2 separate regions of the Homo sapiens genome follow, and region 2 is linked to region 1. Evidence: fine-mapped expression QTL. A gene starts in region 1. The other region holds a variant in brackets. All regions are shown on one strand. Distances are between the middles of the regions.

Region 1 (10,220 bases):
TTAGTGATCATCTGCGATTTTGCCTCTTAGTGCCCATGCTTGAGCCTACTCGCCCAGCTCCTGAGATCTTATGGGAAGCTGCTGATCACCAGTTTCAGGTGTTTCTATCTTTTGGGAGACTGCCTTTCTCTGGCACCAGCTGCAATCAATTATTATTTTAGCGAGATAGCTTAACAACTGCCTGACCATCACCCAATGGTTGCTTGACATTCCTGGGGTTAGGGGGTGGGGGCCTCTCCTGCTCTGCTCATGCCTGACTAGCTATCTACTGTAACAGGAGGAGACCTTCAAATCCATCTCCCCAAGGAATTCTGAGCTGGGTTTGTTTGTTTGTTTGTTTGTTTTGTTTTTTCTTGAGACAGAGTCTCGCTCTGTTGCCCAGGCTGGAGTGCAGTGGCAGGATCTCAGCTCACTGCCACCTCTGCCTCCCAGGTTCAAGCAATTCTTGTGCCTCAGCCTTTTGAGTAGCTGGGATTATAGGTGTGTGCCACCATACCCGGCTAATTTTTGTATTTCTAGTAGAGACACGGTTTCACCGTGTTGGTCAGGCTGGTCTCAAACTCCTGACCTCTTGATCTGCCCACCTCGGCCTCCCAAAGTGCTGGGATTACAGGAGTGAGCCACCGTGCCCGGCCTGAGCTGGGGTTTTTAAGGGGATTGTAGAGGGGGAGAGGCTGGAAATTTGGTATCGTTTATGGGTTGGGGTAAAGGGGGTGAAATCATCAGGATGTAGAAACTGCATTCTTTGGTGAGTTAGCTCCCTGTGGGGTCTTTCACAATGGCTGTCATCAGTAGTTTCACTGATATGCAGGACCTGAAAGAATACCTCAGGTGGAAAACAATGTTTTGCAAGCTTAAGTTGTCTGATGACAGGGTCCGCATGATTCTGGGACAGTAGGCAGCAAACAACTATGAGGAAATGGCTCAGAGTTCAACATGACCTCATGATGAATGCTGAATGTGCTGCAAGCTTTGTTTATTTTCATTTCTCTCCCTCCCTTCCTCCCTGATTTATTTTATTTTATTTTGAGATGGAGTCTCACTCGGAGTGCAGTGGTGTGATCTCAGTTCACCGCAACCTCCACCTCCCGGGTTCAAACGATTCTCCTGCCTCAGCCTCCCGAGTGGCTGGGATTACAGGTGTGCGCCACCATGCCAGCTAATTTTTGTACTTTTTTTTTTTTTTTGAGACCAAGTCTCGCTCTGTAGCCCAGGCTAGAGTGCAGTGGCGTGATCTCAGCTCACTGCAACCTCTGCCTCCCAGGTTCAAGCAATTCTCCTGCCTCAGCCTCCAGAGTAGCTGGGATTACAGGTGTGCACCTCGGCAGAGTAGCTGGGATTATAGGCGCACCCCACTGTACCCGGCTAATTTTTTGTATTTTTAGTAAAGACAAAGTTTCACCATGTTGGCCAGGCTGGTCTTGAACTCCTGACCTCAGGTAATCTGCCTGCCTCAGCCTCGCAAAGTGCTAGGATTACAGGTGTGAGCCACTGTGTCCAGCCTAATTTTTGTATTTTTAGTAGAGACGGGGTTTCACAATGTTGGCCAGGCTGGTCTCGAACTCCTGACCTCAAGTGATCAGCCTGCCTTGGCCTCCCAAAGTGCTGGGATTACAGGTGTGAGCCACCGCACCTGGCCCCTGATTAATTTTATAAAGTTTGTTGGGACGGTTTCATTTCCATCTTGGTACACACAGAGTTTCTTGTCCTTTTGTTGTTGCTACAGCTGCATAGTGTTCTATCACATGGCTGTGCCATAGTTCATTTTCCAGTCCTCTGTGAATGGACATTTGTGTTATGTCCAAATTTGTGCTATTACAAATGCTGCAGTGAATGCCTTTGTACGTATATCATTTTCTTCCCTGACAGCTATATCAAGATAAATTCCCAGAAATGGGATTACAGGGTTAGACAGTTTTGTTGAATCTTGTCAAGTTGATCTCTATAAGGGAGGTACCAATTTTTATTCCCATCAGCCATATAGGAGATTTTTGCCACCCTGAGATATGATACAGCCCTGTTTTCTAATTAATAATCAAAGATGATTTTATAGCAACAGTAATAAGTGCGTTTGTCGGTTTCTTTTCTGTTTACAAAGAACTTTCTTTTTTATTGTATTTTTGCAAGTCTTTTTATTTTATTATTATACTTCAAGTTCTAGGGTACATGTGCACAACGTGCAGATTTGTTACATAGGTATACATGTGCCGTGTTGGTTTGCTGCACCCATCAACTTGTCATTTACATTAGGTATTTCTCCTAACGCTATCCCTCCCCCAGCCCCCCAACCCCCAACAGGCCCCGGTGTGTGATGTTCCCCTCCCCGTGTCCATGTGTTCTCATTGTTCAACTCCCACTACAAAGAACTTTCTTATGCATTACACTAAAATAATAGCTAATATTTATTGAGCACTTACAGTGTATCAGGGATTTTGGTGGACATTATAGAGTACTTGTTAAAAGCAGCTTGGAGTCAAGTCAAACTAACTGAATCTGAAATTTGGCTGCAACACTTTGTACCTATTTCCTTATGTGTAAAACTGGAAGGATTATAGTCTCTTCGTTGGTAGGCAGTATTGTGGGGGTTAAACGCTAATACCACACGTAAAGTACCTAAAAGAGGTACTTGGCCCAGCATGGTGGCTCACACCTGTAATCCCAGCACTTTGGGAGGCCAAGGCAGGTGGATCACCTGAGGTCAGGAGTTCGAGATCAGCTTGGTAAAACCCTATCTCTACTAAAAATATAAAAATTAGCTGAGCATGGTGGCAGACGCCTGTAATCCCAGTTACTCAGGAGGCTGAGGAGGAGAATCACTTGAACCTGGGAGGTGGAGGTTACAGTGAGCCGAGATCGCACCACTGCACTCCAGCCTGGGCGACAGAGCAAGACTCCGTCTCAAAAGCAAACAAAGTATATGGCTCATGTGAAAAGTCAATAAATGCTGTTTACTATTATTCCTGAGCATTTCTATGAGGCAGGTTGTATTGTTCCCACCTTATATATAAGTAAGCCAAAGAACAGAGATATTGGGACATGGAATTGGTAAGTGATAGAGCCAGGATTTTAATCTATCTGCTGATATATTGTCTGATTTGACATTGTATGACTCATGGGTTTGGCCAGCATAGAAAGCTCTGTGTTGAGTGGTGAAGTTGTAATGTTCAACAACCAGATTGGGGGTAAGTGGAAGCAGACATGTACAGAGCTAGCTTCACAGCTGTGTCATGCTCTGTTTTGCAATTGTTAATGATTTTGAACAAGAGGCCCCACTTATTTTTTTTATTTTTTAAATTAATTAATTATTTTTTTTGAGATGGAGTTTTGCTCTTATTGTCCAGGCTGGAGTGCAATGGCACGATCTCGGCTCACCGCAACCTCCACCTCCCGGGTTCAAGTGATTCTCCTGCCTCAGCCTCCTGAGTAGCTGGGATTACAGGCATGCGCCACCACTCCCGGATGATTTTGTATTTTTAGTAGAGACGGGGTTTCTCCATGTTGGTCAGGCTGGTCTTGAACTCCCAACCTCAGGTCATCTGACCACCTTGGCCTCCCAAAGTGCTGGAATTACAGGCGTGAGCCACCGTGCCTGGCCTGGCCCCACTTATTTATTGATTTTATTTTATTTTTTTGAGATAGGATCTCACTCTATTACCCAGGCTGGAGTGCAGGGGCACAATCATGACTCACTGCAGCCTCAACTTCCCAGGCTCAGGTGATTCTTCCGCCTCAGCCTCCCAAGTAGCTGGGACCACGGGTGCACACTGCCACGCCTGGCTAATTCTTTTACTTTTTCTTTTTCTTTTTTTTTTTTTTTGAGATGGAGTCTTGCTCTGTCGCCCAGGCTGGAGTGCAGTGGCACGATCTCGGCTCACTGCAAGCTCCGCCTCCGGGGTTCATGCCATTCTCTTGCCTCAGCCTCCCAAGTAGCTGGGACTACAGGTGCCTGCCACCACGCCTGGCTAATTTTTTTGTATTTTTAGTAGACATGGTGTTTCACCATGTTAGCCAGAATGGTCTTATCTCCTGACCCCATGATCTGCCCGCCTCGGCCTTCCAAAGTGCTGGGATTACAGGCGTGGGCCACTGCACCTGGCCCACACCTGGCTAATTCTTCGATTTTTACCGTGTGGTCCAGGCTGGTCTTCTCCTGGGCTCAAGCGATCCACCTGCCTTGTCCTCCCAAAGTGTTGGGATTACAGGTGTGAGCCACCACATCTGGTCTTTTTAATTTTTTAGAGCGGAGATCTCACTTTGTTGCCCAGGCTGGTCTCTAACCTGAGCTCAAGAGATCCTCCCGCCGGGTGCGGTGGCTCACACCTGTAATCCCAGTACTTTGGGAGGCTGAGGCAGGCGGATCACGAGGTCAGGAGATAGAGACCATCCTGGCTGACACGGTAAAACCTTGTCTCTACTAAAAATACAAAATAATTAGCCGGGCGTGGTGGCGGGCGCCTGTAGTCACAGCTACTCGGGAGGCTGAGGCAGGAGAATGGTGTGAACCCTGGAGGCGGAGCTTGCAGTGAGCCGAGATTGTGTCACTGCACCCCAGCCTGGGCAACAGAGCAAGACTCCGTCTCAAAAAAACCTCCTGAGTAGCTGGGACTACAGGCACACATTATCACCCCCAGCTCCACCTCTTTAGTTTGCACTGGGTACCACAAATTATGTAGTCAGTCCTGTGTGCATCTATGTTGCATGTGTATTATAATTTCACTGATGTAAATGATGTGTAGCATACAGTTTACAAATACTAAAATATACAGTACAGGACTCTATTGTAAACTCCATATAGCCAGTTCTCACAGTATGCTTTCTTTGATGTTGTGTAGCTTCCCTATGGTCCCAATTGATCAATGAGCATAGTTCAGACATGAATGTTGGTTGATATTTTATGTTAGGAGTAAGAGGAAAGTGAAACAATCAAAAGAGATATGTCAGAACTTCACTAGTTTGTCAAGGCTACAAGCGACTTATTTGTTCAACTGGATAATAATTTGCCAATGCTGAACGAATATTTCCTCAAAGTTTTGGTGCATTCACTTACACACTTTTTTTCTCTCTTTTTTTTCTTTTTTGAGACGGAGTCTCGCTCTACTGCCCAGGCTGGAGTGCAGTGGCGTGATCTTGGCTCACTGCAGCCTCTGCCTCCAGGGTTCAAGCAATTCTCCTGCCTCAGCCTCCCGAGTAGCTGTGATTACAGGAATGCACCACCACCCCCGGCTAATTTTTTTTTTTTTTTTGAGATGGAGTCTCACTCTGTTGCCCAGGCTGGAGCCCATTGGCATGATCTTGGCTCACTGCAACCTCCATCTCCCGGGTTCAAGCAATTCTCCTGCCCCAGCCTCCCGAGTAGCTGGGATTACAGGTGCCTGCCACCACGCACGGCTAATTTTTGTATTTTTAGTAGAGACAGGGTTTCGCTATGTTGGCCAGGCTGATGTCGAACTCCTGACATCAAGTGATCCGCCTGCCTCGGCCTTCCAAAGTGCTGGGATTACAGGCGTGAGCCACCGCACCCTCCAACACTTTTAAGTTTAACCAGTAATATGAACATTTTCTCCGCCACTTTCTTAAGTCTAGACGACTTAGCAGTTATTAAGCATTTGCTGATTTGCGTGGTGTAAATTCTCCCACCATGGGCAGATTTCAAGCTGCTGAAGGATGTCACTGAATGAAAAGCTGATAAGAGGTGAGCAGTAGCACATCATAGAGTATTTCCACGGTGCAGATATGATAGACGTCAGAATGTATGCACACAGCAGGCGCTCAATAAATGCTTGTAGCATGAATAAATTAATGAATCCTACTTCGTGAATGAAAGTGCGCCCGGTAAGTCCTAAAGCAACACGCCTTCGAGTTCTTATGATGCTAAGAGAGGCTGATTGCAGTTAGTCTGGAAGTAGCTGCGGGGCGCAGTGCAGGCAGGAAAAGGGCTGGATGCCGGGTCACCGCCCGGCCCCAGCTCCTGGCCCGTCCCCGCTCCCGGTCCATTCCCGCCCCGGCCCCGCCCCCTCCCGCCCCACCACCGGTCTGGCCCCGCCCCTCAGCCCCGCCCCACCCCTCACCGCCCTTCTCCCCGCCTCTGACCCCGCCCCTCCTCTGACTCGGCCCTGCCCGCCCCGCCTCTGACCAGGCCCCCGCCCCCCACCCCTCACCGCCCTTCTCCCCGCCTCTGGCTCGGCCCCGCCCCCTCCCGCCCTCCAGCCCACCCTCCGGTCCAGCCCGCGCCGCCGGCACCTGTTTCCGGGCGGGCCTCCAGAGGCCGGCGCACAAGATGGCGGCTCTGGCGGCCTAAAGAAGGCGGCCGCGGCTCAGCCGTGGGCTCTAACGCGGGGCTGGGGGCCGGAGACAGACTTCGCCCAGGTGACGGGTAGTAGGGGCGGCGCCGCTTGGCCTCGTGGGGTGTAAGACCCACTTGCTGTTGCCCCCGGACCTTGCCGCCACACCAGCCCTGTCCTGGGGCGGAACCGAAGGAAGGTCGGGCCCTGCTGCCCCGCCCCGTCCTTCCTCCTTCCCGGGCGGTCACTGTGCGTGGCTCACTTTTAGAGTTTACTTCAACCACGTGGAGCTTCCATGGCGGCCTCTCAGGTCCTGGGGGAGAAGATTAACATCCTGTCGGGAGAGACTGTCAAAGCTGGGGACAGGGACCCGCTGGGGAACGACTGTCCCGAGCAAGATAGGCTCCCCCAGCGCTCCTGGAGGCAGAAGTGTGCCTCCTACGTGTTGGCCCTGAGGCCCTGGAGCTTCAGTGCCTCACTCACACCGGTGGCCCTGGGCAGTGCCCTTGCCTACAGATCCCACGGTGTCCTGGATCCCAGGCTCTTGGTGGGTTGTGCCGTGGCTGTCCTGGCTGTGCACGGGGCCGGTAATTTGGTCAACACTTACTATGACTTTTCCAAGGGCATTGACCACAAAAAGAGTGATGACAGGACACTTGTGGACCGAATCTTGGAGCCGCAGGATGTCGTCCGGTTCGGAGTCTTCCTCTACACGTTGGGCTGCGTCTGTGCCGCTTGCCTCTACTACCTGTCCCCTCTGAAACTGGAGCACTTGGCTCTTATCTACTTTGGAGGCCTGTCTGGCTCCTTTCTCTACACAGGAGGTAAGATTTGGCCTGTCCTGTGTGCTGCAGGTCTTAGTCGCGTCCACTGGAAACCGCTGCTTTGTAAAGGAGTTATAGGGATGTCAAAGGTGGCTTTCTAATTTAAGCCGCTTTAATTGAAGTCTATAATTGTGGGTGATGTGAATTTTTTGAAACAGTGATTTGAGAAGATCCTGGTTTGACTTACGGACGTAGGGCATGACTGAAAATTTTATATGGACATTTATTTTTATTTATTTTTTATGTATTCATTTTTGAGACGGAGTCTCGCTCTGTCGCCCAGGCTGGAGTGCAGTGGTGCGATCTCGGCCCACTGCAGCCTCTGCCTCCCGTGTTCAAGCGATTCTCCTGCCTCAGCCTCCCGAGTAGCTGGGACTACAGGTGCACGCCACCACGCCTGGCTGATTTTTGTATTTTTATTAGAGACGGGGTGTCACCATGTTGGCCAGGATGGTCTCGATTTCCTGACCTCGTGATCCACCCGCCTCAGCCTCCCAAAGTTCTAAGATTACAGGCGTGAGCCACCGCGCCCTGTCAGGACATTTTTTAATTTTTTTTATTTTTTTTGAGACAGAGTCTCGCTCTGTTGCCCAGGCAAGGGTGCAGTGGCACCATCTCGGCTTACTGCAACCTCTGTCTCCCGGCTTCAAGCGATTCTTCTGCCTCAGCTCCCCGAGTAGCTGGGACTACAGGCATGTGCCACCACGCCTGGCTAATTTTTGTATTTTTAGTAGAGACAAGGTTTCACCATGTTGGCCAGGCTGGTCTTGAACTCCTGACCTCATGACCTGCCTGTCTTGCCCTCCCAAAGTGCTGGGATTACAGGCGTGAGCCACCATGCCCGGCCTATATGGACATTTTTTCTGTCTCATTTTTTTTTTTAATCACTCATACTTTATAATGCCACAGTTTCAAATATTAGAATTAAATCTGAAGAGTTCAAAATGATATAGATAATTACTTCTAGCTAGTTTGCTAGGTGACTTCTTGCAAGAGGCTGATTAAGGTAGTGATGGGCAGGTGGGTAAGCCCTATTTATTGAGCACCTATTATGTGCCAGGCACTGTTCTGTGTGAACACAGCAGTCACAGATCCCTGCCCTTGTGAAACTTACGTATTATCATGAAAAGAGACAGAAAGTAAAAATAGAAAATTATAGTTAGGGTGACCAATATCCTGGTTTGCTCAGGACTAAGGTGACAGGACTAAGTCGGATGTGCGACTTCTGGAGCTAAAACCAGAAAAGTTCCTGGTAAGTCAGGTTGAATTGATCACCCTGATTATAGTATATGAAAGATGATAAGTGCTATGGGAAAAAAAAGTAGAGCAAAGAATGGGACACAGATTACTATTTTAAGTAGTTTGATCAGGGTAGGCTTCATCAAAAAGGTAACATTTGGCTGAGTGCAGTGGCTCATGTCTGTAATCCCAGCCCTTTGGGAGGCTGAAGCGAGAGGATCGCTTGAGGCCAGGAGTTAAACACCAGCCTGGGCAACATAGACCCCTGTCTGTATAAAATATAAAATAAAAAATATTAGCTGGGCATGGTGGTGCTTGCCTGTGGTCCCAGCTACTTTGGAGGCTGAGGCGGGAGAATTGCTTGAGCCCAGGGGTCAAGGCTGCAGTGAGTCCTGATCACACCACTGCACTCCAGCCTGGGCGACAGAGTGAGACCATGCCTCAGAAAGGTAGTATTTGAGTTGAGTTACATTGAAGGAGGTAAGAGGTGAGGGAGTTGGCCAAGCAGATATCTGAGAGAGGAGCATTTCAGGAAAAGCAACAGCAAGTGCCATAGGCCTTCAGGCAGGAATGTGTCCAAAGAGCTTACAGAGCAGCAAGAAGTCCAGTGTGTGAATGAAGGAGAGAGTAAAGAGAGGTAAAGTAAGAGAAGTACGTTTGGGGAGGGTAAGGAGGCACACACACGGATTATATAGACCTTGTAGGCCACTGGTCTTGGCTCTGGAATGGAGGAGCCACTGCAGGACTTTGAGCAAGGGAGTGATGTAATATAATGTTTTAAAAGAATTGCTCTGGGTAAGGTATTGAGAATGGATCAAGGGGAGTGGGGCAAGGGTAGAGGCAGGAAGACCAAGTAGGAAGCTCTTGAATAATCCAGGCAAGCGATGTTTGGTGGCTTGTATCTAGCGGGTGGTAGTGGAAGAGGTAAGTAGCCAGATTCTAAATATGCTTTGAAGGTAGACAGGGTTTGCTGATGGATTGGATGTGAGGTAAAGAGAAACAGAGGAATTAAGCATAACTCAAAGGTTTTTTTTTTTCTTGGACACATTCCACATTTTATTTACATTTTCAGACTAACTTTGGGCTGGGTGCTGTGCCTCATGCCTGTAATCTCAGCACTTCGGGAGGCCAAGGCAAGTGGATCACTTGAGATCAGGAGTTCCAGACCAGCCTGGCCAACATGGTGAAACCTTGTCTGTACTAAAAATACAAAAATTAGCCAGGCGTGGTGGCATGTGCCTGTAGTCCTAGCTACTCGGGAGGCTGAGGCAGGAGGATTGCTTGAGCCCAGTAGGCAGAGGTTGCAGTGAGCTGAGATCATGCCACTGCATTCCAGCCTGGGCAACAGAGAGAGGCTCCATCTCAAAAAAAAAAAAAAAAGACCAACTTTAGTTTCAAAATTATATCTCCATATATGTATCCCTTTTTTGTTGATGTCACTTAACCTTAAGTGCATAGTTTGTTAAAAAAAAAAAACTGTAAGCAAATATTTACCATGTCTGTTACGTGTAACACACATGAACAGCTTTTAACAGAAATTCATCAACTCCCCCCCAACATTTTTTATTATAAGATAGGTATCAAAACAATCCTGAACATATTTTTCATACTACTAGTAGTCAGCACCCACACCACTTCAAAAATTAACACATTTGTGCTGGATGTGGTAGTTTTTACCCATAATCCCAACACTTTGGGAGGCTGAGGCAGGCAGATCACCTGAGTTCAGGAGTTCGAGACCAGCCTGGCCAGCATGGTGAAACCCCATCTCTACTAAAAATACAAAAATAAGCTGGGCATGGTGGTGCATGCCTGTAGTCCCAGCTACTTGGGAGGCTGAGGTAGGAGAATCGCTTGAACCTGGGAGGTTGTAGTG
Region 2 (12,212 bases), 22 kb after region 1:
TGACCTTCTCCCCAGTCCTTCCCAGCACCATTTTTGTTTCACACCAGGCTTGTGGCATTTTGGTGCTCACAGGGGTTTTGCCTTCTGACCTCTCCTTGGAGTAGGCCATTCTCATGCAGGGCTCACCCTGAGGCAGGAGGACCAAGGGCTCCCTGCGTCCACGGACCACGTATGCCTTGGTGGTCACTCCCATCGGGGCTATCAGTTCTGCACTGTGCCCTGGTGCGGATTTTAATGCATATTTTTATATATAAATGTTCCCAAAGGCCAAATTTGTTGCCAGGTTTTATACGCAGGTCACCATAATTTGTATTATGTTCCCTGAGTCAATGAAGGTTTTCTTTAGACTTCTTAATTAAAAAGAGAAGAAAGAAAATGTTCACCAATGGTCTGGCTTCTGGTTTTTGCTTTCCTCATACTTACTGTCTGATTGTGAACTCTGATTTGTAAATCTCAGGGAGACCAAGGCAGTGACATTGGACATTCAGGCTGTGCAGAGGGGCACCTGGTCTTTGGTGATGAGTTTGGGTAGGGTTTGACCAGATTCGACAGGCCTTTAGAAAAGGCAGCAGGGACTGGGCATGGTGGCTCACGCTTGTAATCACAGTAATTTGTGAGGCCAAGGTGAGAGGATTGCTTGAGCCCAGGAGTTTGAGACCAGCCTAAGTAACGTAGTAAGACCCCATCTCTACAAAAAAAATTTTAAAAAGTTAGCTGGGCGTGGTGGTGCATGCCTGTAGTCTCAGCTACTCAGGAGGCTGAGGTGGAAGGATCGCTTGAACCTAGCAGGTCGAGGCTGCAGTGAGGTATGATCACGCCACTGCACATCCGCCTGGGCGACAGAGCGAGACACTGTCTCAAAAAAAAAAACAAAACAAAAAACGTTGAGGGCTGCATGTAGCTACAGTGGATTTGCCAAGAGCCAGTCAGCAGTCAGGCCAGATTAACCTCGTTTCATTTTTCTTTTTCTTGATAGGGTCACTGTGCTGCTAGATGGAGAACATGAGGTAGATTGAGTACATGTGGGTTTCAGCTAGGCATTGGACAATATATCCTATGAACAAGGCAGAGAGACGTGGGATGGATAACAGTGGAGTTAGATAAATTCCTGAGAGACTGAGCAGGCGGTGGGAGAGAGCTAACTGATCAGCATGTCAGTGGCAGCTGGGAAGGAGCCCTTAGTAGCAGTTGGAGCCCTGTCCTCTGCCCTTTGCTCCGCTGGATTCAACACCTGTTATTAATGACGCGGATGAGGCAGCCAAAATGAAAGGTTTCATGAACCTTGGAGGAAGAGCTTACAAAATGACAATTAGGAGCCTCATAAATCAAAAGGCTGCTTTGATGGGTCAAAAGAAAAATGTAGTGTGAATAAATACAAAGCAATACACTAAGGTCCCAAAATCAACAGCATAAACATCAGAGAGGGGGAGAGCCATGATGTGACAGCCATGGAGATAGGGGGGTATGAGTTTTCTCAGTGACTGGAATCTGACATCACTTGTCTTTATTTATTTATTTATTATTTTTTTTGAGACTATGTCTCAGTGTCGCCTGGGCTAGAATGGAGTGGCGTGATCTCGGCTCACTGCAACCTCTGCCTCCCGGATTCAAAGCCATTCTCCTGCCTCAGCCTCCCCAGTAGCTGGGATTACAGGCACGTACCACCACACCTAGCTAATTTTTGTATATATATGTTTTATATATATCTCACTCTGTCGCACGGGCTAGAGTGCAGTGGCGCAATCTCGGCTCACTGCAACCTCTGCTTCCTGGGTTCAAGCGATTCTCCCACCTTAGCCTCCTGAGTAGCTGGCATTACAGGCACCCGCCACTATGCCCAGCTAATTTTTTGTATTTTTAGTAGAGAAGGGGTTTCACCATGTTGGCCAGGCTGGTCTCAAACTCCTGACCTTGAGATTCACCCGCCTTGGCCTCCCAAAGTGCTGGGATTACAGGTGTGAGCCACCGCACCTGGCATAATTTTTGTATTTTTAGTAGAGACGGGGTTTTACCATGTTGGCCAGGCTGGTCTCGAAATCCTGACCTCAGGCTATCTACCCATCTGGGCCTCCCAAAGTGCTGAGATTACAGGCGTGAGCCCCCGTGCCTGGCTGCCTTTATTTCTTGGAGTCAGATTTATTCTGCTCCCCAGGCAGGTGGCTGAAAATTCAATGCCAGCTACCTCTTGAGCACCCTCCCAAATGTCTGGGATCACCCAGAACTCCTGGCCTCTGTGGGGCCAGAGCCAGGGATTTTTGCTTACCATCTGTAAGGTCACCTCTCTGCTACTGGATGCTGGGGTTTGGCCCTGGAATCTGCCCTTGTCTTGGACACTGCTCCTCTAGAAGGGTTCATAAAGCCCCTTCCTGGTGACAAGTGCCAGTGGGGCACAGATCCTGCTACTCCAGTCACATTTCTGCCCAGTCTTGGAGCACTACCACTCTACCTATGATAATGCTCCATCCACCTCCCCTACTCAAAGCATTTCCCTTCTTCTCTACGCTTTGCAGGACCTTTGTGCTGAATCCCACTCAGGGCACCTTTGGAAGCTTGGTGCTGACTTCTGGAGTCGGGTGGGAAAAGATATGAATATATCCTATGTTGTCTTACTAACGCTTCCGTTACTCCTGTATTAAAACCACCAGGCCAGGTGTGGTGGCTTACGCCTGTAATCCCAGCACTTTGGGAGACCGAGATGGGTGGATCACTTGAGGTCAGGAATTCAAGACCAGCCTGGCCAACATGGTGAAACCCTGTCTTTACAAAGAAATACAAAAATTAGCACCTGTAATCCCAGCTACTTGGGAGGCTGAGGTGGCAGAATCTCTTGAACCCAGGAAGCGGAGGTTGCAGTGAGCCGAGATCACGCCACTGCACTCCAGCCTGGACAACAGAGCAAGACTGTGTCTCCTAAATAAACAAATAAATAAAATAACCAACACCTGAGCCTTTGACCTGGGCCAAAGCTTAGTCTGAGTCAGTAATGAGCTCCAACTTCCATGCAGATTAATATGATCTGAGCTAGAATTTAATATGATCTGAGCTAGAATTAACAGGAGAATTAGCGTCCAGAATAAGGAAGGCAGAAATTCTGCCCATCCCTGTCATTCTTCTCATGCTGGGCTGGGGCCAGTCCTGGGCACTTTCTTGCCTTCTTTCTTTTCTCTAGATATTAATAGAATCAGTGTGGTGAGAGATCAAGAACATGCTGTGGATATAATATACTTGGATTTCAGCAAGGCATTTGACAACATGCTATGAAATATGGAATGGGGCCAATCACGGTGGCTCATGCCTGTTATCCCAGCACTTTGGGAGGTCAAGGTGGGTGGATCACTTGAGTTCAGGAGTTCTAGGCCAGCCTGGCCAATATGGCAAAACCCTGTCTCTACAAAAATACAAAAATTAGCTGGGCGTGGTGGTGCACAACTGTAATCCCAGCGACTCGGGAGGCTGAGGCAGGAGAACTACCTGAACCCGGGAGGCAGAGATTGCAGTCAGCTAAGATCGTGCCACTGCACTCCAGCCTGGGTGACAGAGCGAGACTTCATCTCAAAAAAAAAAAAAAAAAAAGAAATATGGAATGGATGAAAAGACAATTACAGGAGCTTGCTTTCTATATGCATGTGTGTGCACGCGTGTGTGTTTGCATTGGTAACGGCTGCAGTAGAGATTTCCATTTCTCAGTGTAAGAACCACACTTTGAAGATGTTATCAACAAAGTGGATCTTGTCCTGAATGCGGTTGGCAGATGGGTGGGGGCACATAAAGCCATGTCAGCCTGGAAAGGAGAGTCACAAGAAGGCTGTCTTCGGGAAGACGGGTTGGACTTTTTTTTTTAAAACTTTTTTTTGCGTGTGGCTTCAAAGGGTAAAACTAGGACTAATGGGTAGAAGTTATATGTCCCCAAGTTGAAGCTCTTAGCTCAGGAAGGTTTCTTTCATTCTTTCTTTTTTCTTTTTTTTTTTGAGACGGAGTTTCGCTCTTGTCGCCCAGGCTGGAGTGCAATGGTGCAATCTCAGCTCGCTGCAACCTCTGCCTCCAGGGTTCAAGCGATTCTCCTGCCTCAGCCTCCTGAGTAGCTGGGATTAACAGGTGTGTGCCACCATGTCCAGCTAATTTTTGTGTTTTTAGTATAGATGGGGTTTCACCATGTTGGCCAGGCTGGTTTTGAACTCCTGACCTCAGGTGATCCACCTGCCTCGGCCTCCCAAAGTACTGGGATTACAGGCTTGAGCCACCACACCTGGCCAGATCAGGAAGGTTTCTTAGCCATTAGAGGAATCAGCGAGGGGGATGTTCAGAATGTCTCAGTTGGGGGTGAGTTCCTTGTGACTAGAGGCATTCAAGCGAAAAGATGATTCCTCGTCAGGAACATGGGTGTGAAGAGTCGCATCAGAGAGGCGTTGGATGAGAAGACCTCTAAGGGTCTTCCAATCCTGTGATTCAGTTGTTCTGTTATTACGGGATAGTCTTTCAGACCTGCCCCACGGGTTGGGAGGACAGAGTACAAGAGCCGTGTTGACATTTCTTCTTGATGTCAGACTGTTGACTGTCTGGCCATCTTAACAGGAACAGCTGTGATTGATATTCTTTTTTTAAAAGATTTTATGTATACACACACACACACACACACACACACACACACACACACACACACTCACAGAGTTGATTTCACCTCGAAAGCCCTTGAAGTGAGAGGGATGACAGCTCCTCTCTGAGCCCTGCGGACCACTCTGCTGCTAATGGACTGTCAGCCTCTTTCATTATGGGCTCCAGACTGTGCAGGCTGGTGTAAAAGGAATGCCTCTGGCAAGAACCTGGCACTTGGGTTCCAGCCAGTTGACATTTGTGACCTGCCCTTCTTCAAACTGGGACAGCCCTCCCACTGTGAGTGACTAAGCTAGGATGGCAAATGGTGGTATAAACCAAGTTGGGTTCCTGCCTGAGGAGGGGGCAAAGGCTGAGTCTGGGCTCATCAGGAGGCTTGCAAACGGCTTCCTGGGGTCAGGGAAAGGCTGTAATTGCAAGGCACAGACTCACTTCAGAAGATGCTGGAGCTCTGGGAGGAACAGTGAGGGCTTTGATCACATGCTCCCAACCAGGCTGAGTGGGGTATCACAAGTTGGTCTGGGCGCTTCTATGATGTTAAGGGATCCCAAGGGGCAGGGCTCTGTGTGGTGTGATTCAAGGGGTCCTCCAAATTCCGCACTCCCACGGTCCTGCCATATCCTGGCCCCTGTCTCCCCCAGCTTGGCTTAGAATTGCCTCCCATTAGGATCACAAATGGGTTTAACAGGGAAGACAAAAGCATAGCATGTGTTACTCACCTATTATTTTGCCAACATGTTTATTGTCAATTTCTCCCAGTAAGTGGTAGGACTAGAGTATAAGGACCATGTTTTCTTTTCCAGCCCATCTCAGCACTAGCACAGTGCATGGTGCAACAGAG[C/T]AGGCAGTCAGTAACTGGTTGTTGAATGACTGAGTTACATGGGAAGGGCTGGGCCCTCCAGGGCTGACTGACAGGTGTGAGAGTTTGGACCACTGCATCACATCAGCTGTCAGTAAGGACAGGTGAGTTCCACTTGGGGTTGGGAGTAGAGGAGAACCATGGCAGTAACTTATTATTATTATTATTTTGAGATGGAGTTTTGCTCTTGTCACCCAGGCTGGAGTGCAATGGCACGATCTCGGCTCGCTGCAACCTCTGCCTCCTGAGTTCAAGCGATTCTCCTGCCTCAGCCTCCCAAGCAGCTGGGATTACAGGCACCCACCACCATGCCCAGCTAATTTTTGTATTTGTAGTAGAAACGGGATTTCACCATGTTGGCCAGGCTGGTTTCGAACTGATCTCAGGTGATCCACCTGCCTCAGCCTCCCAAAGTGCTTGGATTACAGGCATGAGCCACTGTGCCTGGCCCCATGGCAGTACTCTTAAGAGCTTTTAAGATCCAGCTCATATTCCTGGCACGTAGAAGTCTCTAAATAAATAAACGTTGGATGACTGGCCGAGGGAATGGCAGTAATAAAGCTGTCATTTGTTGAATGCTCACTATGGACCAGGCACTGTTCTGATGCTTAAATACATTCTTTTAGTGCTCATAACAACCCCACGAATTGGATATTAAGGTCTCTTTTTCATAAGAGAGGAAACTGAGGTTCAGGGAGATTATTAAACTTGTCTAGGGTCATCTGGCTAGTAAGTGATAGAACCATGATTCAAATCTTGCTCTAATTCAGTGCAAGTTCTTTTATTATTATTATTTTTAATTAAAAAATTGAGACAGGGTCTCATTATGTTGGCCAGGCTGGTCTCAAACTCCTGGCCTCAAGCAGTCTTACCTTGGCCTCCCAAAGCGTTGGGACTACAGGTGTGAGCCACCACACCCAGCCTTCACTACAAACTGCCCCTCATCTCTCTTGCCCTGCAGTTCCTTGCTTGTAAGGGACTCAATCCATTGGTCTGCCCTTAGCCGCTCCCAAGTGTGTGAGTGTTGGGGCCAGCTATAGGCCTACAGAGGTGGCCCATGTGCCAGTGCCACAGAGGTGGTTCCCATCAGGGTGGGATGGCTGCTTCCTGGCTGGTGGCATTCCTACCAACACCCCCAGGGGCCAGCTCTGTGGGGATAGTAACTAAGCTTGTTGGTCTAACCTACTCTGGCTGGCTGGGCGAAAGTTACAAGTCAAAGTCTGCCCATCCCCAGATAATGGAGAGTGGCTCCTGCCTACCCACGATGATGGAGGCGAAGGTTCAGTCTCAGGTTAAATTTATGCTCCTGTCCCCTCATCTGTCTGTCCTCATTCGTCTCGTCTCTTCCAGTCCTCATCTAGCCACTGAAGCAGAGTGCCCACATCAGGAGCAGCCAGTGCTCAAGCTCCCAGAAACTGCCTAGTGACCTGCCTTCTAGACCTGCCTCCTGAGAATGGGGCTGGCCACCTTCGAGGAGAGGGAAGTGAGCCCCTTCCTGCCTCGGGGTGGGCAGCATCTGGAGCTGACAATTGTATGCATGTTCAGGACACAGGATACTCAACTCTTCGGGTTCAGTGTGCTGTGTGGAGGGAGAGGAAGTTGACACACGTGAACCATAGAATAAACAACGACCACAGAACATCAAGGTAGAGATGGGGCTGCTGGGTATCAGGAAGGCTTCCAGGAAGAGGTGACAATGAGCGGCGATCAAGGTTTCTAGGAAGAGGTGGCCATAAGAGGTGACTGTTCCATGGAAACCGAGGTGCTGATGGACAGCTCAATTCCCCCAGCTGGAGAAAGCCCCCCTGTTGCTGCCTGAGAGAGTAAGACTCGAAGTTTTCCTTAATCAGCCTCTTTTGGCTGTGCAGTTAGACAACTGGAGCATTGAGGCAGGTGTGCCAAGGGCACTCTGACCACTGCCAAGGTCAAAGCCTTCTGCAGAATGAAAACTCCGACACTTCCTTGCTGAGAAACAAACAAGAGAGAATGGCGGGGCATTTAATCATCCACAGCTGCCAATACCTAATCAAGATGAATGGCCTGGAGAGACAAGGCCAGGGAAAGCATCCCGTGAAGCAGGAGCGCTGAGCCCAAGTCTCCTGCGAGTCAGGGGAGCCCCTCAGCCCTGGGCCACATTGAGGCCAAGGGAATACCAGGTGGGAGGCCCTCAGATTCAGGGGAAGTGCTGAGGGGGTCAGAGGTCACCATGGTCACCAATGAGGGCCTTCCAGCTGACACTTGCCTTGGCCAAAGACCTTTACTGAGAGCCTGCTCTGTCCCAGGAGGCAAGATAAACGAGGCACACCCCTGCCCTTTGAGGACACACAGTGAACTAATAGCAAAAGCTACATGCATACATTATCCTGCCACCTCAAGTGTCAACATAGACACTTGTCCCTAGAGATCCTTAAAGCCCCTCTGAAGGACAGGCCACTCACAGCCATGTGTGAGACATAGAGGCATAAAGGCTGTGGGGAAATGAGGGCAGAAGAGATGAACTTCTCCATGCCCCATTGTTCCAGACTGCGATCAATTCACTATCTATGACTAGATCTCCTCTGATGCCATCTGCAGGTGGCTGCAAGACCAGTCAATTTATTGAACAAGTATTATGTTACAGGCACTTGCTAAGCTCTGGGAGGTATCATGGTAAATGAGACCTTATCCCTGTCCTCAGGAAACTTACACTCTCCAGAGGACAGACAGACAAACAGGCACACCTTATATCACTCCTGGAGCTTGACTGGTGAAGTGGAAAGAGTTTGGGCTTTCGAGTCTGGCAGCACTGGGTGGGTAGAAGTCCAGGCTCGATCACTCACCCCCGGGATACCCTCAGACAAGCTACATAACCTCTTTGAGCTTCCGGTGCCTCCTCTGCAAAGGAGGATGATAGGATTTGCCCTGTAGGGTAATTTTGGGTTTAAATGAGGTAGTGCTCACAGAGTACTTAGCATGTGCCTGGTGAGTAGTAGGCACTTCATAAAGTGAGTTCCCCCTGTCCCCCCCTTTGTTTTGAGACAGGATCTCACTCTGTAGCCCAGGGTGGAGTGCAGTAGCACAATCATGGCTTACTGCAGCCTCAACCTCCCTGGGCTCAGGTGATCTTCCCACCTCAGCCTCCAGAGTAGCTTGGACTACAGGCTTGCACCACCATGCCCAGCTAATTTTTGTATTTTTTATAGAGACAAGATTTCACCATGTTGCCCAGGCTGGTCTCCAGCTCTTAGGCTAAAGCAATCCGCCCGCCTCAGCCTCCCAAAGTGCTGGGATTACAAGCCTGAGCCACTGCTTCCAGCCCCCTTTCCTTTCTTATGGATGACTATTTTAGAATGTTGTTTTTTGTGTAATCTTAGACTTTCCTACCAAGGCAGAGGGCCCATGGCTGAGGGTCCATGTTCTTCCCAGTACTCAGCACAGTGCCTGGTACATTCATTCATTCATTCAACAAACATGTATTGAGCACCTGATAAGTACCAGGAACTGTATTAAAACTAAACATAGAAAATGAACAAGACCAGATCTCTATGCTCCCAGAGCTTATATGATAGTAAGGGAGATAGAAAAGAAACAACTATTCATTGTGAAACTCTCTGCTGTGGTTTGAATGTTGTATCCTCCCAGATTCATGTTGAATCCTAATGTTGAATCCTATGTTGAAGCCTAATCCCCAACATGATTGTATTAGGAGGTGGCAACTTTGGGAGGTGATTAGGTCACGAGAGTAGAGTCCTCATGGGTAGAGTATTAGTGCCCTGATCAAAGAGACCCCAGGGAGCTGCCTTGCTCCTTCCTCCATGGGAGGACACAGCTGGAAGGCACTATCTATGAACCAGAAAGTGGCCTTCACCAAACCAAATCTGCCTTGGTTTTGGACTTCTCAGCCCCCAGACCTGTGAGACATTTCTGTTGTGTATAAGCCATCTAGTTTAATGGTATTTTGCTATAGTAGCCTGAATGGCACTCTGTGTATGGGGGTGGGGGTGTCCATTTGGTGATTCCGAGGGGCTCTGCCCTGGCACCAGGATAAGTTCCATGCAGAAACCAAAGGATGACCCATCTGCAGCCCTTCTGTCAGGAGAGCCAAGCCTGGCTGTGCTGAGATCAGAATCCTGGTGGGGTGACTATGAAAAAGTTGGGGTCTTGGCCTTGGGGTCAAAGATTGTCAAGGTGACTTCTCATTCGAATGCTTCACAGCCCTGGAGGCTTGACAGTTGAGAATGCGCTGAAGAAGTCCTGGATGGAGAGACAGGTGGTCTTACATGTGGCTGTGAGTGGCCTGTCCTTCAGAGAGGCTTTAGGAATCTCTAGGTACAAGGGAAAGATAACATCCCCTTGGGCTGCAGTCCAGGTTCATTCAACAAGGGAAGAAAACTGGAAAACATCTGATGTCTGTTTTACCAGAGTTGTTACTATTACTTTTACTATTATTGTTTTTTGTTTTTTTGTTTTTTTTTTGAGACGAAGTTTTGCTCTTGTTGCCCAGGCTGAAGTGCAGTGGCACGATCTCGGCTCACTGCCACCTCCATCTTCTGGGTTCAAGCGATTATCCTGCCTCAGCCTCCCGAATAGCTGGGATTACAGCATGCACCACCATGCCCAGCTAATTTTGTATTTTTAGTAGAGAAGGGTTTCACCATGTTGGTCAGGCTGGTCTCAAACTCCTGACCTCAAGTGATCCACCCACTCTGGCCTCCCAAAGTGTTGGGATTACAGGCATGAGCCATTGCTCCCCACCAGAGTTGTTATTATATTTTAAAAAATTGGGCCAGACACAGTGGCTTATGCCTGTAATCCCAGCACTTTGGGAGACCGAGGCAGGTGAATCACCTGAGGTCAAGTGTTTGAGACCAGCCTGGCCAATGTGGCAAAAACCCATCTCTACTAAAAATACAAAAATTAGCCGGGCATGGTGGCACATATTGTAATCCCAGCTACTCCGGAGGCTGAGGCAGGAGAATCACTTAAACCTGGGAGGTGGAGGTTGCAGTGAGCTGAGATTGTGCCATTGCACTCCAGCCTGGGTGACAGAATGAGACCCTGTCTCCAAAAATAAATAAATAAATAAATAAATAAATAAATAAATAAAAGTTTCCCATGTGCATGTGTGCACATATGTGTGTACACTTATGGACATTTGGGGACACCTCCTGCACCCCGCAGTGGTGCAGTTATTATCCTGGGTATTCAGTAGGTGCTGAACGTGAAGGGAACCCAATGCAGTGAGCGACACCTGGTAAAGCCATCTCAATGTCTAGACAAGCAGTCTCCATGCAGCTCCAAGGAGGATAAGGGGAAACCACAGAGGGCTGTGAGCAGAGGGTTGCTCAGAGCCCCTCCTGACGGAGGCGAGGAGGAGGTGGAGCCATTCGTTATCCTGCCAGCTTGGCACAGAGGCTGGGTGCAGGGGCTGGGTGGCTGTGCTGAGAAGAGCCATTCCATTTCCAAGAAGGAACAGGGAGGGGATGGTGAGGAGCGAAGATAACCAAGTCAGTCAAGCAGGGCAGAGCACGGTGTAATCCATGCCCTAGGCCATCACAGTGGCTGCAGCCAATCTCACTGCATGAGAGGTGGGAGAAGATGGGCTTCCCCAGGAGAGGCCCTGCCCTGGAAACCCCACTGCCTGCCCTGGGTCATCCTTGATACTCATTCCCTTGTTTCTCTCAGTGGCGGGCATGACAGCAACATGTCAAGGCCGCCTAACCACAGTCACAGTGAGAGCCACCAGACGCTGGATCCGGGCAGCAACTTGGGGTTCACTGAAGCTTTCTCCGTGCTTTTCTCACGCTGGCCTCCCTATGGCCCTGAGAGGTGCATGCTCGGCTTGTTTCATGGGCTGAGTGGTTCAGTGACTTGCTCGGGATCACAACCACCGCACAGGAGCACCACACATGGCCTGGACTGGTTCTCTTCCAACTCTAAAAGCAGCACTCATTTGGTTAACAGTCTTTTTCATTTTCAACACTTCTTTCTTTTGAAGGGGGGAGCAAAGCGTGATCGGTTGCCTTTTATAATTCTCGTTTTCAATTTCAATCTCTTTTAAAATGTTGAAAGACTCACAGCTGCCTCTTTTGTTATTGTCTTCATCTCCCACCCTCTTTCCGGCCTCTCCTCCTTGCCTTTCCTTCCCTTAACCCTTCCCATGGCTCCTCTGAGCTGCCCAGGCATGTGGCCGGCTTGTCATGCTGGTGGCCTTGGATGTTGGAGAAGAGGGGGAAGAGGTAGGATTGAGGGGCTCCATCAGAGACAGGGTCTCAGGGGTCTTCACAGTTTGATGGATTTTTTTTTTTTTTTTTGAGACAGAGTCTCTCTGTTGCCCAAGCTGGAGTGCAGTGGCACGATCTCAGCTCACTGCAACCTCTGCCTCCCAGGTTTAAGTGATTCTCCTGCCTCAGCCTCCCGAGTAGCTGGGACTACAGGTGCGTGCCACCATGCCCAGCTAATTTTTATATTTTTAGTAGAGACAGGGTTTCACCATGTTGGCCAGGCTGGTCTCAAACTCCTGGCCTCAGGTGATCCACCCATCTTGGCCTTCCAAAGTACTGGGATTATACGCATGAGCCACCATGCCCGGCCTAATTTTTGTAGAGACAGAGTCTTGCCATGTTGCCCAGCCAGGAGTCAAATAGCAGGAAGGCTCTGCTCCAAACAATGCTTGGTTTTCCATTGAAGACATCTAATAACTTTTACAATTTTTTTTTTTTTGAGACACAGTCTCCCTCTGTCACCCAGGCTGGAGTGCAGT

Direction of the effects. Alleles are on the strand shown, and positions count from the first base shown. SD is a standard deviation of normalised expression in the study named.
For the expression in testis of the gene that starts at base 6,243 in region 1, T is the high allele of the variant in region 2 and C is the other (large effect, 1.0 SD a copy in GTEx).

Evidence for each region. PIP is the estimated chance that this variant, and not a neighbour inherited with it, causes the effect.
Region 2: its variant is fine-mapped to the expression of UBIAD1 in testis (GTEx, PIP above 0.99).

The regions. Positions count from the first base shown.
Region 1 is chr1:11,266,956-11,277,175 of GRCh38, forward strand. UBIAD1 (UbiA prenyltransferase domain containing 1) reads left to right here and starts at 6,243. Exons shown (of 2, transcript NM_013319.3): 1 at 6,243-7,105. The coding sequence starts at 6,577. RefSeq lists silencers at 5,822-6,091, 6,152-6,201 and enhancers at 6,202-6,371, 6,462-6,511.
Region 2 is chr1:11,288,053-11,300,264 of GRCh38, forward strand. It overlaps UBIAD1 (UbiA prenyltransferase domain containing 1), which reads left to right. Exons shown (of 2, transcript NM_013319.3): 2 at 1-382. Among named protein-coding and RNA genes, the nearest start is that of UBIAD1, 21 kb to the left of the region's middle. RefSeq lists a silencer at 1,107-1,289. The variant C/T (reference allele first, on the strand shown) is at 5,453.